Homo sapiens: one gene and its partner. The protein of the gene in region 2 purifies or fractionates together with the protein of the main gene of each other region. This does not show direct contact. Each region holds a gene or a part of one and is shown on either strand. Other genes may lie near its edges.

Region 1 (7,000 bases), on a different chromosome or scaffold from region 2:
ACATTCAGGTCTAAAATTACCATCAACTTTAAATGTCAAAATTATTGCAGAAAATTAGATAAACTGTAATCAATGTCTTCTCAAAAGAGACAGATTTTACACATATTTTTATTTGCAGCTTTGTTTTTCCACTTCAGATACTGGAAACATTCTATTGTTGCATTAAACCAACAAATATCTCAATAATATACATGTATTTCTATAATAAGGAATAACTTAGTAATATTCTAATGGTGTTAACAGAAGATAATTCAACAGCCCTCAATAAGGGACTTGAAAAATGTTTCTCCCTCATTTAAGTACAAACTTCTCTTCCTTCTATCAATCTTTTTTCTCACTATTTTTTCTTTCTCTTTTTCTTCTCCCCTTATATTAAAAACACAATTTTTCAATTATAGAACTCTGATCTCTTATCAAGCACATAATTCATTTAACAAGTTATTTTTTAGTACATTCCTAAATAGTATGTTTCAGGTTCTGTTCAGAAACTATGGCTTAGAATTTTAGACAGGCTTAAACAGGACTAGATCTGGCTTCATAGATTATTACATTCTTTTGTTGCTATGCTACTAAATGTAAGAATGGTTTGAAACAGGACCTCCAATTTCACCCAAAAACATGCAAGTTCTCTTTCTTAAATTCCATATAATCACTTGAGTATCACAGGACTGAAAAAGAACACATGAATTTGTTTGCTACATAAAGAGCTACATTTAGAAGGCCATGTGACTAGAAGAGAAGATTTATGCAATTCTTAAACAGGTTTGGTATCTTTATTCTCTTCTGCTACAATGTAATGAATACTCTATTGTATTGTTACTTACAAAAATGAAAAATAACTGCTCATTCAGTTCTTTCTAATACTCCCGTAAGCTCTGAATGTGGGAATGTGCAGAATTTCCCACCACTCCCATCATGCCAACCTATTCCGCACATGTCAAACATGCTCATCTTTCTACCTGGAGAGAGATGAGCGTCTCGCTTTGCCTCAAAAATTCATTCTATGAGACTCAAACATCACCTTCCCCAGTAAAGACTTTTCTGACTCCCTCGGCCACAGTGAGGCTCTCCTTTCTGCTATGTGCTGGGATAAACACACACACACACACACACACACACACACACACACACACACACACACAGGCATACACACTTTTCATTTAACATCCTCCATGGATAATAGTACCTACTTGACATTTCCACCTCTTTGATAAGAAAACCAAGGCAGATAAGGTCTGATTCCAAAGTCCATTGTTTGTTTGTTTTTTAATATATACTTCCTTCAGCTCCACACTGTACTAAAACGGGTGTCTGGCTGCCTCCATTCTCTGAGCCTTCTGACAACAAAAGGCAGAGATCCTGTCTTACTCATCTTTGTATTCCTGGTGTCTGGCACAGAACAGATACTCAACAAACACTCGATAAAAGATGAATGAATAAACAAATGAAATGTAGTAATGCTCAACTTCCTATGTGAGGAAAACTCATGCCCTTTTAAGTATTTATGTAAAAATATGATAATAAGTGCTAATTTCATTCAGCAAGCCTTTTGTGAGTGTGTCATATGGCTGACACATATGGTCATATGTTGGCCTTAAATACATCAGGGAACTTAACTGACTCAGTTCCCTGCCCTTGAGAAGCTTTAAATACAATGAGGGAAAGAAAGAAATAACTAGCTAATGCTACCATTATTTGCTTTATTTTGTCTAATTCCCCACAAATGTTTCTTTTTAAAAGATCCTCATTCTTTAAAACAACCGTGTTCCATCACCACATACCTCTGGTCAGTAGGATACAGATGAGTCAACAGAAAACAAAGCTAGAAGAATCTTTGTGGAGCTTAAATACACAAACTTTTTCGCTATTCTTGTTTGGCACAGTAGTAATTTGAGCAAGTATATAGCACAGTATTAAATAAAAGAATGTAATTAAGGACACTCTGGCCATCCTTGCCCTTTTTCTTTAATAAGGGCAGCACAACCAAGTGGAAAGGGCATGGATTTTGGAGTCAGGTCAGGGTTCTCATCCCAATTCGGTCCCTTTCTCCCCATGTGTGACACAAGTCACTTTTTCTTTCTGGGCCTATTCCTTTATCTGTAATTCTGAGATAAAGAAGCATGCCTTAAAGGGCTCTTGTAACAGTGAAAGAAGATAATGTATGTAACACCTGCCACACAAAAGGTACTATTATTATGTGAGCTGCTCCACCTGCTTCTTGAAGACTACTGGTTCTAACTTTAGTGCAACATTATAAATATTTCTAATCCTGTCCTACTCTGTTTTCTGTTGCTTATAACAGAATACCTGAAATGGGTAATTCTAAAGAAAAGGAATTTATGTCTTACAGTTATGGAGGTTAAGAAGTCCATGGTCGAGGGGCTACATCTGCTAAGAGCCTCCTTGCTGGTGGGGACTCTCCAAGAATCCCAGGACAACAGAGAGCATCACAGGGCAAGGGGGCTGAGTGTGCTCATGTGCTCACTCAAGTCTCTCTTCCTTTTCTTACAAAGCCACCAGTCCCACTCCCATGATAACCCCTTAATCCATTAATTCATGAATGGATCAATCACTTCTTAAAGGCCTCACCTCTCAACACTCTCACATTGAGGATGAAATTTCAACATGAGTTTTGGAGAGGACAAATATGTAAACTATAGTACATCACAATATCAATAACACAAAATGTATACCAAAAGAGAGGTACATTTGACTTTTGAAAAGCCAGGTTTGAACTACATGGGTCCACTTATACACAGATTTTTTTCAATAAATATATTTGGAAAAATTTTTGGAGATTTGTGACAATTTAAAAACACTCGGGCTGGGTGTGGTGGCTCATGCCTGTAATACCAGCACTTTGGGAGGCCAACTTGGAAGAACTGCTTGTGCCTGGGAGTTCAAAACCATCCTGGACAACACAGAGAGATCCTGTCTCTGCAAAAAATAAAAATAAAAATAAATTAGCCAGGCCTGGTGATACATGCCTATGGTTCCAGCTATTCAGAAGGCTGAATGGGGAGGATCACCTGGGCCTGGGTGGTTGAGGCTGCAGTAGGCCCAAGATGGCGCCACTGCACTCCAGCCTGGGTGACAGTGAGACTCTGTCTCAAAAAATTTTTTTAAATAAATAAATACAATAAAAACACAGACAAACCACGTAGCCAGGATAACAAAAACATTAAGAAAAAAGTTAGGTATGTCATGAATGCATAATATGTATATAAATACTAGTCTACTTTATCATTTTATGGTAGTAACCATAAAATTTATTAGAAAAAATTAAAATTTATCAAAACTTACACACACACGATACATAGTATCATTCGCGGTCAAGAGAAATGTAAACAAATGTAAAGATGCAGTATTAAGTCCTAACTGCATACAATTAACTGTAGTACATACTGTACTACTGTAATAATTTCATAGCCACCTCCTGTTGTTATTGCAGCGAGCTCAAGTGTTGTGAGTAACCGCTTAGTCCACTGTGTGATGTTAATCATCTCTGCGTGAGCAGTTCATCTCTCCGGTAAATTGTGTATCACAGTAAAAAATGATTTCTTGGTGTTCTCTTGTATTTTTCATCCTGTTTGGTACAATACCATAAACCTTGAATGAAAACGTGCCACTAGAGATGCCAGAAATGCTCCCAAGAAACAGAGAAAAGTCATGACATTATGAGAGATAAAGTTGAATTGCTTGGTATGTACCATAGATTGAGGTCTGCAGCTGCAGTTCCCAGCCCTGCCCCTCCATTCCCCCACCTTTTCAGAAAGAGGAGTCATCTGGTAAGCAAACAAAAACTTACAATATCAATAAGTACAATACAGTACTGGATTTTCTCTCCCTTATGGTTTTCCTAATAAAATTTTCTTTTCTGTAGTTTATTGTAAGAATACAATGTAATATACATATAATATACAAAATGTGTGTTAACAGACTGTGTTATCAGTAAGGCTTCCAGTCAACAGAAGGGTTACTAGTTAAGTTTTTGGGAAGTCAAAAATTATACAAAAATTTCTGACTGTGCAGGGGTCAGTGAGTCTAACCGCTGCACTATTGAAGGGTCAACTGTACTTGAAAAAAGTCACTTGTAGCAGGAAGAATAGCATGGGAAAAGATTCAAGACCACATAGTTAAGTCTCAGATTTCTAGCTGGTGCATACATCAACTGCCTCTTCTCAACATACACCCTGCAAATCCTTTATTCCAGATCCTTTTTGTGAAAAATCAAACTATTATTCCCTATGATAAGATCTAAAAGAACTGACAGATGTTACTCTATACTAACAATTCCATTTTCACAAAGAAGCATCTCTGAGTTAGTAAAAAAAAAAAAAAAAAAAAGAGGAAAATGAATTATGTACAATGTCTAGAAATAAATCTCAGCACACAGTACATGCTGTATTATATATTGGTTTCTAAGTCATTTCTCAACTGTTTACAGTAAGTAATTTTGCAGAACATGTAATAAAAATTTTAATAAAAACATTTTCAATTCTAAGCAATTTATAATCTATTAATTTAAAAATCACATTTACTTGTGCTGGTACAACTAGGAATCCATATGCAAAAAAAAAATTAATCTAGACACAGACCTTATACCTTTCATAAAAATTAACTCTAAATGGATCACATACCTAAATGTAAAATGCAAAACTATAAAACTTCTAGGAAAAACACAGGATAAAATCTATGTAGCCTTGGCAATGAGTTTTCAAATATAACACAAAAGCCTATCCATGAAATTGGTAAGTTGGCCTTATTAAAATTAAAGACATCTGTTCTGACAAAGACACTGTTAGGAAAATAAAAAGACAAACCAAACTGGGAGAAAATATTTGCAAAACACATATCTGATAAAGTGCCTGTATACAAAATGTATAAAGAACTCTTAAAATCAACAATAAGAAAACAACCCCATTAAAAAGTGGGCAAATGATCTGAACAGCCATCACACCACAGAAGATGTACAGATGAAAAGGGGTATGTGAAAAGATGTTAACATCATATGTCATTAGGAAATAGTAAATTAAAGTAACAATGACATATTACTACACACCTACTAGAATGGGTAAAATCCAAAAAAGCTGACAAAATCAAATGCTAGCAAAGATGTGGGGCAATAAGAACTCACATTCATTGCTGGTGAGAATGTAATAGTACAGCCACTTCGGAAAACAGTTTGGCAATTTCTTACAAAGCTAACCATAATCTTACCACAGGATCCAGCAATCGCACTTCTAGATATTTATCCAACGGATATAAGAACTTATGTCTACCCAAAAACCTGCATGTGAATATTCATAGCAGCTTCGTTCATACTTGCCAAAAACTGGAAGCAACCAAAATATCCTTCAATAGGTGAATAAACAAACCATGATATATCTGATAATGATAGAAAGAAATGAGCTATTAAACCTCAGGAAGACATGGATGAACCTTAAATGTGTATTGCTAAATGAAAGAAGCCAGTCTGGCAAGGCTGTATGATTCCAATTATACAACATCTGGAAAAGGCAAAAGTAAAGAGACAGTAAAAAGATACGTGGTTTTCTGGGAGAGGGGCTCACAGAGGTTATGAGTGAAGCCCAGGGGATTTGTAATGTGTTGAAATTATTCGGTATGATACTATGATCCTATAAGGATAGCTACATCAAATTAAGTATTTGTCAAAACCCAAAGAACTTCACAGGACAAAGAGTAAACTTTAATGTATGCAAACGTAAGCAAATCATTTAGAAGGTCAAGGAATCCCAAGGTGGAATGCAGATTGTAACAAAGAAATCTAACTGTATTATAAATGTGTGCTACAATCTCACTGAAAAGGATAGGAGGAAAGGTGCTTAGCTGACTAACTCTAGAAATGAGTAGAAGCTGTGAGACTAAAAGCAAAAGGAATAGTACATAAACACTGTACTCTTGATGCTAAAGTTGTTTCCCATGGGAGCACAGGTTAACAATTCCAATGCTGCTATACATCTATGATAGAAATGAATGATTAAGCAAATGTATGGCAGATGGTGCAAACCAGGTTTCTTCTCACTGTTGGAGTAAGTTTACATATAAACAAAGGGAGAAGGCTAGAATGATACCTGTGGTAATGAATTAGCATTACAGATAAAATGTAAATTCATAGTTAAACATGGATACAAACTGTTACATAAAAATATGTACAGATATGTTCATATACACACATGTATTTCTTGCTTTGTCACATGAGAGAACCTAGAAGCAATGATACCACAGTAGCAACAAGCACACCTAGCACCCAGATCTTGGTTTCTAACACCATTCCCCAACAAAATGATCCAGATTCCTTGGAGAAATGACTGATTCTAGGACTGTGGCAAGATGTATACAGATGAACCTAGAGCATCTCATAATACCAGAAAGTAAGGAAATGCTTCCAAAAAAACAAAATTCACATTGATGGTAGTATGTCAAAGAGGCACTGGAGTCAAGCTGTAACAAAGTAGCATTGTATTATAACCCAAAATATTTAGATAGATAGATAGATTTTATATTTATATAATATATATATATCCATGAGTCCAGAACAAAATAAATATGATTGAGTAAATAAATACATGGGGGAGAAGAGACAAATCTCCCACGGAGAAAAATATCCAAATAATTTATATAGATTTCTACCATCAAAGGGGGAAGCATAACTCTCTACTCCTTAAGTATAGGCTATACACAGTTCCTTCCTTCTAAGAGCACAGCATGAAAAAGGTGGAGAAAAGTGGAAAAATCTGATAAACACTATCTCAGCCAGGTGATAAAGATGAGTATCACAGTGACAAATCATACTGATAGTATATACCCTTGATATGAGATGAAAATGGCACGTTACCTCTGTGATCTTTCTACCAAAAACCTATAATCACAGTCTAATCATGAGAAAAAACATTAGATGAATTCCAATGCAAATGTATTCTACAAAATACCTGACCAGTACTCCTCAAACATCATCAAAAACAAGGAAGTCTAACAA
Region 2 (8,440 bases):
CTACAACAACTCTGTAACAGACGTGAAATTCCTACTCTCAACTTTTTATTTGTGCATATTGCTTTGTGCTTTCTTACTTAGGATAAGGAAATAGTCTCTTCATACCATTGCCAGATTTAGAATGATCCATCCAATTGGATAATTTTTCCCCTAGTTTTTGGGACAAACCCCAAAGTTCTGATATAGTCAGCAAATTATGATACATCCAGAAACACCGAATCTGAGAGACAAGCTATAAATTAGATTCCACCTAAGACCCTGTTGCAATCTTTTAAGCAAGTTAACCACTTTCTAATTCACCTAAATTTAAATTTTTCTTTCCACAAAGCTTTCCCTTTAGTGAGCAAACTACATCAATAGACTAATAATTGGGTTTTGTAAAAAAATAAAAATAATAATAATGACCAGTATCTATACATAAAAAATCTATGCATTCCAATGGAAGTGTATCTATAGTCAGAGCTTACCTATATCCTATTTCAAGAAAAAAAAATTACTGACAATATCTTCATAGTACGCACGTTTGCCCAGAAATGAACAAGCCATTTATATTATTGGCAGTTCAAACCAAGGAAGTAATTTATTTATTTTTTTTGAGCTCACATCTGTACCAGATCCTTTTACTTAATTATTAACACATATAATTAAAAAATTACAACATATTCTATTCATGAAAACAATCACCTTATATGAGTCAATGTAACATGGTAGAAAATATACTCTATTTAGAGTCAAGAAACCTAATTCTTGACTTGTTCTGGAATTAACTCGTAATAGAACTTCTGGGAAATCATATAATCTTCAGGGGCCTTGGGATTTGTCTACAAAGTGAAGGCTTGGGCATCTCTTCTAGCATTAGAGATCTATAGCTCCATTTTGTACATTACTGTTAAAATATTTGAGGGATAAAGTTGGCTGACACCACAGTGAAGTCTGAATAAAGTAAGGTTAAACCAGTTTCTCTTCTGTTTTTATGACAATGTCTAACCAAACTATAATAATCTAAAAGATGTCTGTAAGTCGTGTCTTATAGTATTCATTAAATTTTCTCATGTATTATATCCAATGTCTTTTATTACAATTCTATATAATAAAATAAAAATGTGTAAGTTAAATGTTAGCTTTGTTTCAGTGTAAGCCACAACCTGTACTGCATGTTCTCCAATAAACATACCTACTAACCAAATCACAAATCCCTTTTCTCTTTGGGGAGGCTGAAGAAAGATGAGAGGAGAAGAGCAGACCAGTAGTTCTTAAAAACAAATGGTAACTTGATCTGTTACCATTGTAGTGAGGCCTTAAAAGTCCATTTCAGTTTTACAAGTTCACAGATGGTCTATTAAAAACCATTCTATGTTGCCAGTAATAACTTCAGTAACAGACCTTACAGAATAGCCCAAATAAGCTAACAGTTAACACTAATGTGTGTGTACTGTAAACCACAACTCACGAAAGCTGCTTGTAGACTCCAGTTTCACCAGTAATATATTTATGACATAAATTAAAATATTCAGTTAAGCTTCAAAAGAAGACAGAAAAGAAAAATATCAAAAAACTTAGCCACAACACTGGCCTTTTATTTCTCAAAAAATTATTGGAAGGAATTTTTTAAAAACATTTTTTTTAAGTAAAATAATCTCATCAACTTAAATTTTCAATACACTTAACTTTGGCAAAGTTCTATAAATCTTGAAATTTAAGTGTTTTATATTCATTATAAGTAAAAGCACTCAAAATATTACTCTATACCAAAGCTAAAAATTGATATAGAAAAGAAGTATCAGACAGAAATAACTAATAAAACATCATTACAAAAGTACCATGTCCACGGACTTTACCTAACATTGTACACATTAAGGAAAGAAGACTTTCAGGACTACAAAACAAGTATCAGCTTGTTCCAGTTAATTTTGCTTTAAAGTGTCCTCATTTAAAAAAATAAATAAAAGGGACAGTTCCCCAGACAATAGTTGTAACCATTCTTCAGCTGCTTATTAATAATCATAAATTAACTTTGTGAAATATAGCAATTTAGAGAAAACTTCTATCACTCAATCAAGTCTTACAGAAACAATTAAAAATTTTGTAATTTGAAAATGTTTTCCTGCCCAAGTATCACTGACTTGTGACAGTAAACACTAGTAGTAAGTCTTCTTACAATGCTCTACAGGAAAAAAAAAAAAAAAAAAAAAATTAAAACTTCTTTCTTACAAACACAGAGAAAAATCTAAAGATTAATTTTACTCCAAATGAGTCTAGGAACCCCAAACAAAAGTACTTAGGATGAAATGATAAAGTTTAGAATGCTCATGTTATAAAAATTCTATGAGTCCTCTAAGGGGACTTAAAAACCAGGAAAATGTGGCAAGAAGGGCAATTTGAACTTTTATAGCCTTAAAAATCTCTTAAGCAGAAAAGAAGTATTTTGCAATCACAAATTTTGGGTAACTGAATAAAAAACATTTTTATAGTTGTAGTCTAGATCATAAAGAACATAGAAAAGGTTGGTGAAGCACAACTAAATCGGCAGGTCATACTACCGAAAAATTGTACCTCTCAAAAAACAGCTTTATATGGAAAAAAATGACAATAACCTATTTGTTTTTCATGTAAAATCTAGGCAGCCTATTTACATTTCCTATGATTTTTTAAATTTTTGGGTCAGTAAAATAAATACACTGACTATAGACATTTCTAGGTGAAAAATTATAATAAAACTGGAATCCTTGGCTTCCAGGATTGCAACATTTATTATTAAATAATCAGGTTTAGGAGTGGAAACTGAGAGAAAGCAATGCCGTGTATATTTGTACTACCAGCACAATTTTGTTATATTAAAATTTTTATTTATAATCTCAGAAATGGAAAAAGAAGAAAGAAAAAAAAGATAAAGGAGTAAAAAACTTTTTAGATCCCAATAATGATGATTTACTACTAACTTTAGTCTTGTTTCTGTCACTTTCTAACTGGATAAATTTAGCCAAGTGACCTCATTTTCTCATCTATAACTGATGGTAAGGTTAAAAAAAAGTATTTAAGTGTAGTAGAAAAAGTAAAACATTCCAAAGAAATATAAAGTGGGGTATTTTTAGTCAAAGAAAAGAGGTCTTTGGTTGTTAGTTTCTTTTCTATTTTAGGCACAATAAACCCATGCAGGAAAGAAAATCAGTTTGAAGCAGGAAAACAAAAGTGACAGGCAACTGCATAATTCTTACCTGCGTACATATGGTACGTAAGCCTCTCTATAAGTTTAATAACAGTTCCTGCTTTGATAATTGGAATTCCAGCCTTGGGCTGCATGTTCTCTTCAAATATAATATTCTCTTCAGAGTCAGGCTCTGCAAATCTATAAACATCAGCACTAGGCAGCCTCATCTGCTCCTCTTTCTCTTCCTGTAGCATTGTTACATCAAGCATCCTTTCCAGTGTACTCCGGTACTGTAAAGATATCAATGCTGCCATCCAATTGTTTTTCTCTTCAGCTGACTTGGCAGAAAATATAACACTATTTTCATCTTTTAAAATTATTTCAAAAGCATGCTTGTATTCATTGGTGTCATCTTTATCATTAATTTGTACCTTTCGCATAAAAAACTTTTCTTTAAGACGATATTCTGCATTGCTAGCACCAGGAAGTCTTGGCTGCCCATGATTTGATTTACAGCAAATCATTAAGCCATCAAAGAGAAATATGTGTCTCTCATGTTTGGCTCCTACACGTGTAAGAGTTCCTTCCATTATAAATTCATTACAACACTGTCCAATGTCTTTTCCCTCCCAACCATCAATATTCTTCTGAATCTCGTTCATCTTCTTGATTGCTAGTTGTTTCCCCTTCATTTGCTGACTATAAAACCGACATGCAGATTCACTGGAATAAAGAAAAAGACATTATTAGTACATAGATGACAGAAAACCTAGAGCTCATGTAAGTAAGGGAAAGTGTAAAAGTAGATTTTTACAAGTCTCACTGAGAAGGTATTCACTAATTCCCCAAATAGATTAGAATTACAAAATTACACAATTTTGAAAATTAAAGCAACCTAGAAATTTTTTTCAGTGTTCTAAAAAGCACAATGATTGCTGACAAAATTCTCCTTAAATGTAACTACAAAATGATTATTTCTATCTTGGCTACTAAATATTTAGAATGACAACTAATAAAAAGTAGCCCAATACAGTAAAAAAAAGTAATCTGAAAGATTAAAATAAATTATTTAGAAGAGTTTAAATGGACAAGACCCAAAGCTAAAAACATGTAGCACATATTATAATCAGGAAAGTGGAAGCAATGTTATCTGAATTAATGCCTCAAGTTATATAATCCCTAAAATAAAGGACACTAATAATTTTACTTTGACAGAATAACGATGCCAACATAAATCTACCCGATACATTTTACTCTGTCTCTCCTTCAGCTTACCAGTTGACTCTCAGGAGGTCTTGTCTGGGAGTATGCAAGGAAAATGCACAAATATGAAAGGTTTTTCAAACAATAACAATTCTCTTGGCTTTGATGTCACTTCCTCTAAAAGACCAGGCTTGTCACTAAAACTATTTTCTTCATTGTTTACTTGAGGAGGGAACTGGGATCCCTGAATTTACACCACAATATTCAGGGAAAAAAGGATATTTTAAAAAGTAAAAATATTCACCTCAGTCTTCGTTTTGCAAGACTTTTAGAACATATTTTTTCCATACCACTCTGAACATTAAGCAAAGCTGTTATTGCTTGTTTTAAACATTCCTTGTCTTCTTGATCTTCACTTTTTTCTTCTAACTGCTGTAAAGCCAAAATGACAAATCTGAACCAGTAGTACATTTTTGGATAAAATAATAATAAACTCATTTAAGGATAAAAATAACATTTATTCAACTGTCACAATAAAAATTTTAAATGTGTCATCAAATATTCTTTTTAAAAGTGTTTTTCTTGTGTGTTACTATTAATACACAACCAAGTTTTCTACATTAAAAGACCAAGATTAGCAGTGTTAAGATGGGTTATATCTTGTGACAGGCAGTAATATGTAGTTTTTCAAGGTGCATACCACTGAAAAGAAATGGGGAGCATAATCGATCTACTGAATTATCATAGAGTTAGCATACCACTAAGCATGTAGACGAGGTTTTTTTTTTTTTAAGTGTGGAATTTGGTCTTAGGTTTCTGACCCCTATATTATTGTTATATAATATTGAGATGATAAGGAAGATAAATATACAGAGAACGATGCAATATAGTAGAAGGAATCTCAATTACAAAATCTAGGATCAAATTTTGACTCTACTTCTGTGTGACCTTGGGGCAAGTCACTTGATCTCTGAGTCTTACTTTTCCCATTTGCCAAATAAGGCTTATAAAAAGCCTACCCTGCCTACTTTTAGGGGTTGTTATTAAAAACCAAAGCACTTTGTAAATGGTAACACACAATGTAAGTGTAAATGGTTTTCTTTGTAATTATACTACAGAATTAACATTAGTATAATAAAGAACTTTGTCCATATCCACATTAAGATTTTGAGTGAAGCTATAATATACATATTTATGAAACTGAAACTCAAGCATATTTTCTATTACTGGCAAATATCTGTGTCAGACAGAACGTCTCTACTTAACAAGAACTAAGTCATCAGTAACTAATTGTCAATACAGTAAGGTGGCTATGATTCAAGCAAGCACTTAACAGATGTATGAGTCACAATAATTCACTCATACATCTTAAACCTGTTCCTGGTTACCAAAAGGAAAAGTTAAGAAATCACATATTGGCTGGCTGCAATGGCCTATGCCTATAATCTCAGCACTTTGGGAGGCCCAGGTGGGAGGATCGCTTAAGCCTACGAGTTTGAGATACCGTCTATTAAAATAAAATAAAATAACATTTTATCAATAGAGTTTTCATCCAACAATTTAGGAATACCTACTCTCTACCATGAATGAAAAGACTTGAGATACACAATCATGAAATATTCAAAGTGATTTATAAAGAAGTTTATTTTTCTTTTTTTTTTTTAGATGGAGTCTTGCTCTGTACCCCAGGCTAGGGTGCAGCGGTGCAATCTCAGCTCACTGCAACCTCTGCCTCCCAGCTTCAAGTAGTTCTCCTGCCTCAGCCTCCCGAGTAGCTGCGATTACGGGTGTCTGTCACCACACCTGACTGATTTTTTTTTTTTTTTTTACTTCTAGTAGAGACAAGTTTTCACCATGTTAGCCAGGCTGGTCTCAAACTCCTGACCTCAAGTGATCTGCCTGCTTCGGCCTCCCAAAGTGCTGGGATTACAGGCGTAAGCCACCATGCCTGGCTAGAAGTTTACTTTTCAATTAGCTTAAGTATTCATTAGTACATTAGTACTTTAAGGATTTTGTGTTTTTCACAGGTATTCCTTAAAGGTCAACAACACATTCCTTTCTGCTTCAATTGATAAAAATCAGTTACATGCATGCGCATGCACATACCACATGCACTGATGACCTGTGAAAAGTAAACAGATTTCTTACTTATATTCTAAACCATTTTTATTAAAATTTACTTAAAATACTTTAATGGTCAAATATTCTAGAAGTAATGAATACCATATTGTAATGTTTAATACTTAGCTTTTATTATCCAGATTTCTTATATTCATTATTAAAAACTCACCATACTTTCTACTAGAGGCATAATCTACATTTTTAGGAAAATTTTCAGTCTTAACTGTGTTAAGTAAAAGAAAAATTTAGGCTGGGCACGGTGGTTCATGCCTGTAATCCCAGCACTTTGGGAGGCTGAGGCGGGGGGATCACGAGGTCAGGAGTTTGAGACCAGCCTGGCCAATATGGTAAAACCCCGTCTCTACTAAAAATACAAAAATTAGCTGGGTGTGGTGGCACACGCCTGTAGTCCCAGCTACTCGGGAGGCTGAGGCAGAAGAATCGCCTGAACTCAGGGGTCAGAGGTTGCAGTGAGCCGTGATCGTGCCACTGCACTCCAGCCTGGGCAACAGAGTGAGACTCCGTCTCAAAAAAAAAAAAAAAAAAAACAGAAAAATTTATTCCTAACAATTCTCAACATAAAAAGGGTAACGAAAGATATTTTCCAAAGGATAAGAGACTTTAAAAGTGTACATATTAATACAAAAATCAAATATCTTTTATTCATAATATTGTTCTTCAATATGGCCAGCTAGATTAAAGAAAGCCAATGGCCAGGGTTCATAAAGAAAGATACTAGGTTTTTACTTAACAGATATTACTAGTAGGCTGAAGGCTGGAATCCAGGTAATCTCTCAAAGTACCTTCCATCCCTATCATTTGAAACTATTTGCCTCTCACATGGCAGAATTCTGGGAGACAAATAAAATGTTACCATTAAACATTATCAAGTTTAGTCTTTAAAGCAGCAGATAATCTAACATTGAAAGCTATATACCAGGGGTATCCAATATTTTGGCTTCCCTGGGCCAAACTGGAAGAATTATTATCTTGGGCCACACATAAAATATACTAACACTAACGAGAGCTGATGAGCTTTTTAAAAATTGCAAAAAAATCTCATAATGTTTTAAGAAAGTTTACAAATTTGTGTTGGGCCGGGGGTTAGACAAGCTTGCTGTATACCTTAAGGCAAATTTAATGAAAGCACCACTGAACGATGAATTAGTTCACTGAGTTGATTGAGAATTTAATCACTCAAAAGCAAAGCCCAGAGAAATTCAAGTCAGTAAGATACAAGGCAATTTTTCGGTCTTAAATAACTAACAGGTAGCAGAATATTGAGCATTTGATATTTTGTCCTGGATACATTTTTTATATTTTTAATTCAGGAAAACATACCTAATGGTAGACAAAATATATAATTCTCATACACATAAAAATATTTATAAAAGAAAAAATCCACTTGGACATCCTTTGATTTTCTATCCTAAAAATGTTTCAAGTTTTGGAATCATTTATCTACTATTTAACTGTAGCATTTTACATACAGAATATTCTGGTATCTCAAAAATGTTAATATTTTAAAAGCCACAAACCCAAAGTACATTTCAAACCCATAAAACTTTCCTGATGAAATACTTTTAAAATGTCATTTTTACCTTTATAGCATTAGGCAAGCCTCTAAAATAAATTTCAGTGTAATAAATGACCTTTCTTCTACCACTTTTTGCTTCTTTTACTTAACATAGCTAATTTAAACTTGGCACTGGTGCAATATAATTCAAGCTAACTACCATCAAAAGGGTGGCTTATTGTGGCTACAGAGACAAAGCAGTGGCAATTAGTATGTAAATGAGACTCAACAAAGCAGCATCCTCTTGTTACCAGTGATATTCAATACCATGCTTTTCATGAGTGCCTATTTAATAATAATGTGCAATAGTAACAATTACATTTGTACAAAGGCAGTTTATTTGAATAGTTTTAAAAAAAGTACTAAATCCTGAGATTATATTACCATATGAG

Evidence for each region.
Region 1: the proteins of SOS1 (region 2) and EPS8 purify together in Homo sapiens (affinity purification with western blotting; 5 studies listed by BioGRID and IntAct, with this or other methods). This does not show direct contact.

The regions. Positions count from the first base shown.
Region 1 is NC_000012.12:15,779,389-15,786,388, forward strand, and holds part of EPS8 (epidermal growth factor receptor kinase substrate 8), read right to left. Parts: intron 1-7,000. UniProt on the Homo sapiens protein: Signaling adapter that controls various cellular protrusions by regulating actin cytoskeleton dynamics and architecture. Depending on its association with other signal transducers, can regulate different processes.
Region 2 is NC_000002.12:39,019,355-39,027,794, forward strand, and holds part of SOS1 (son of sevenless homolog 1), read right to left. Parts: intron 4,784-8,440; coding exon 4,656-4,783; intron 3,872-4,655; coding exon 3,216-3,871; intron 1-3,215.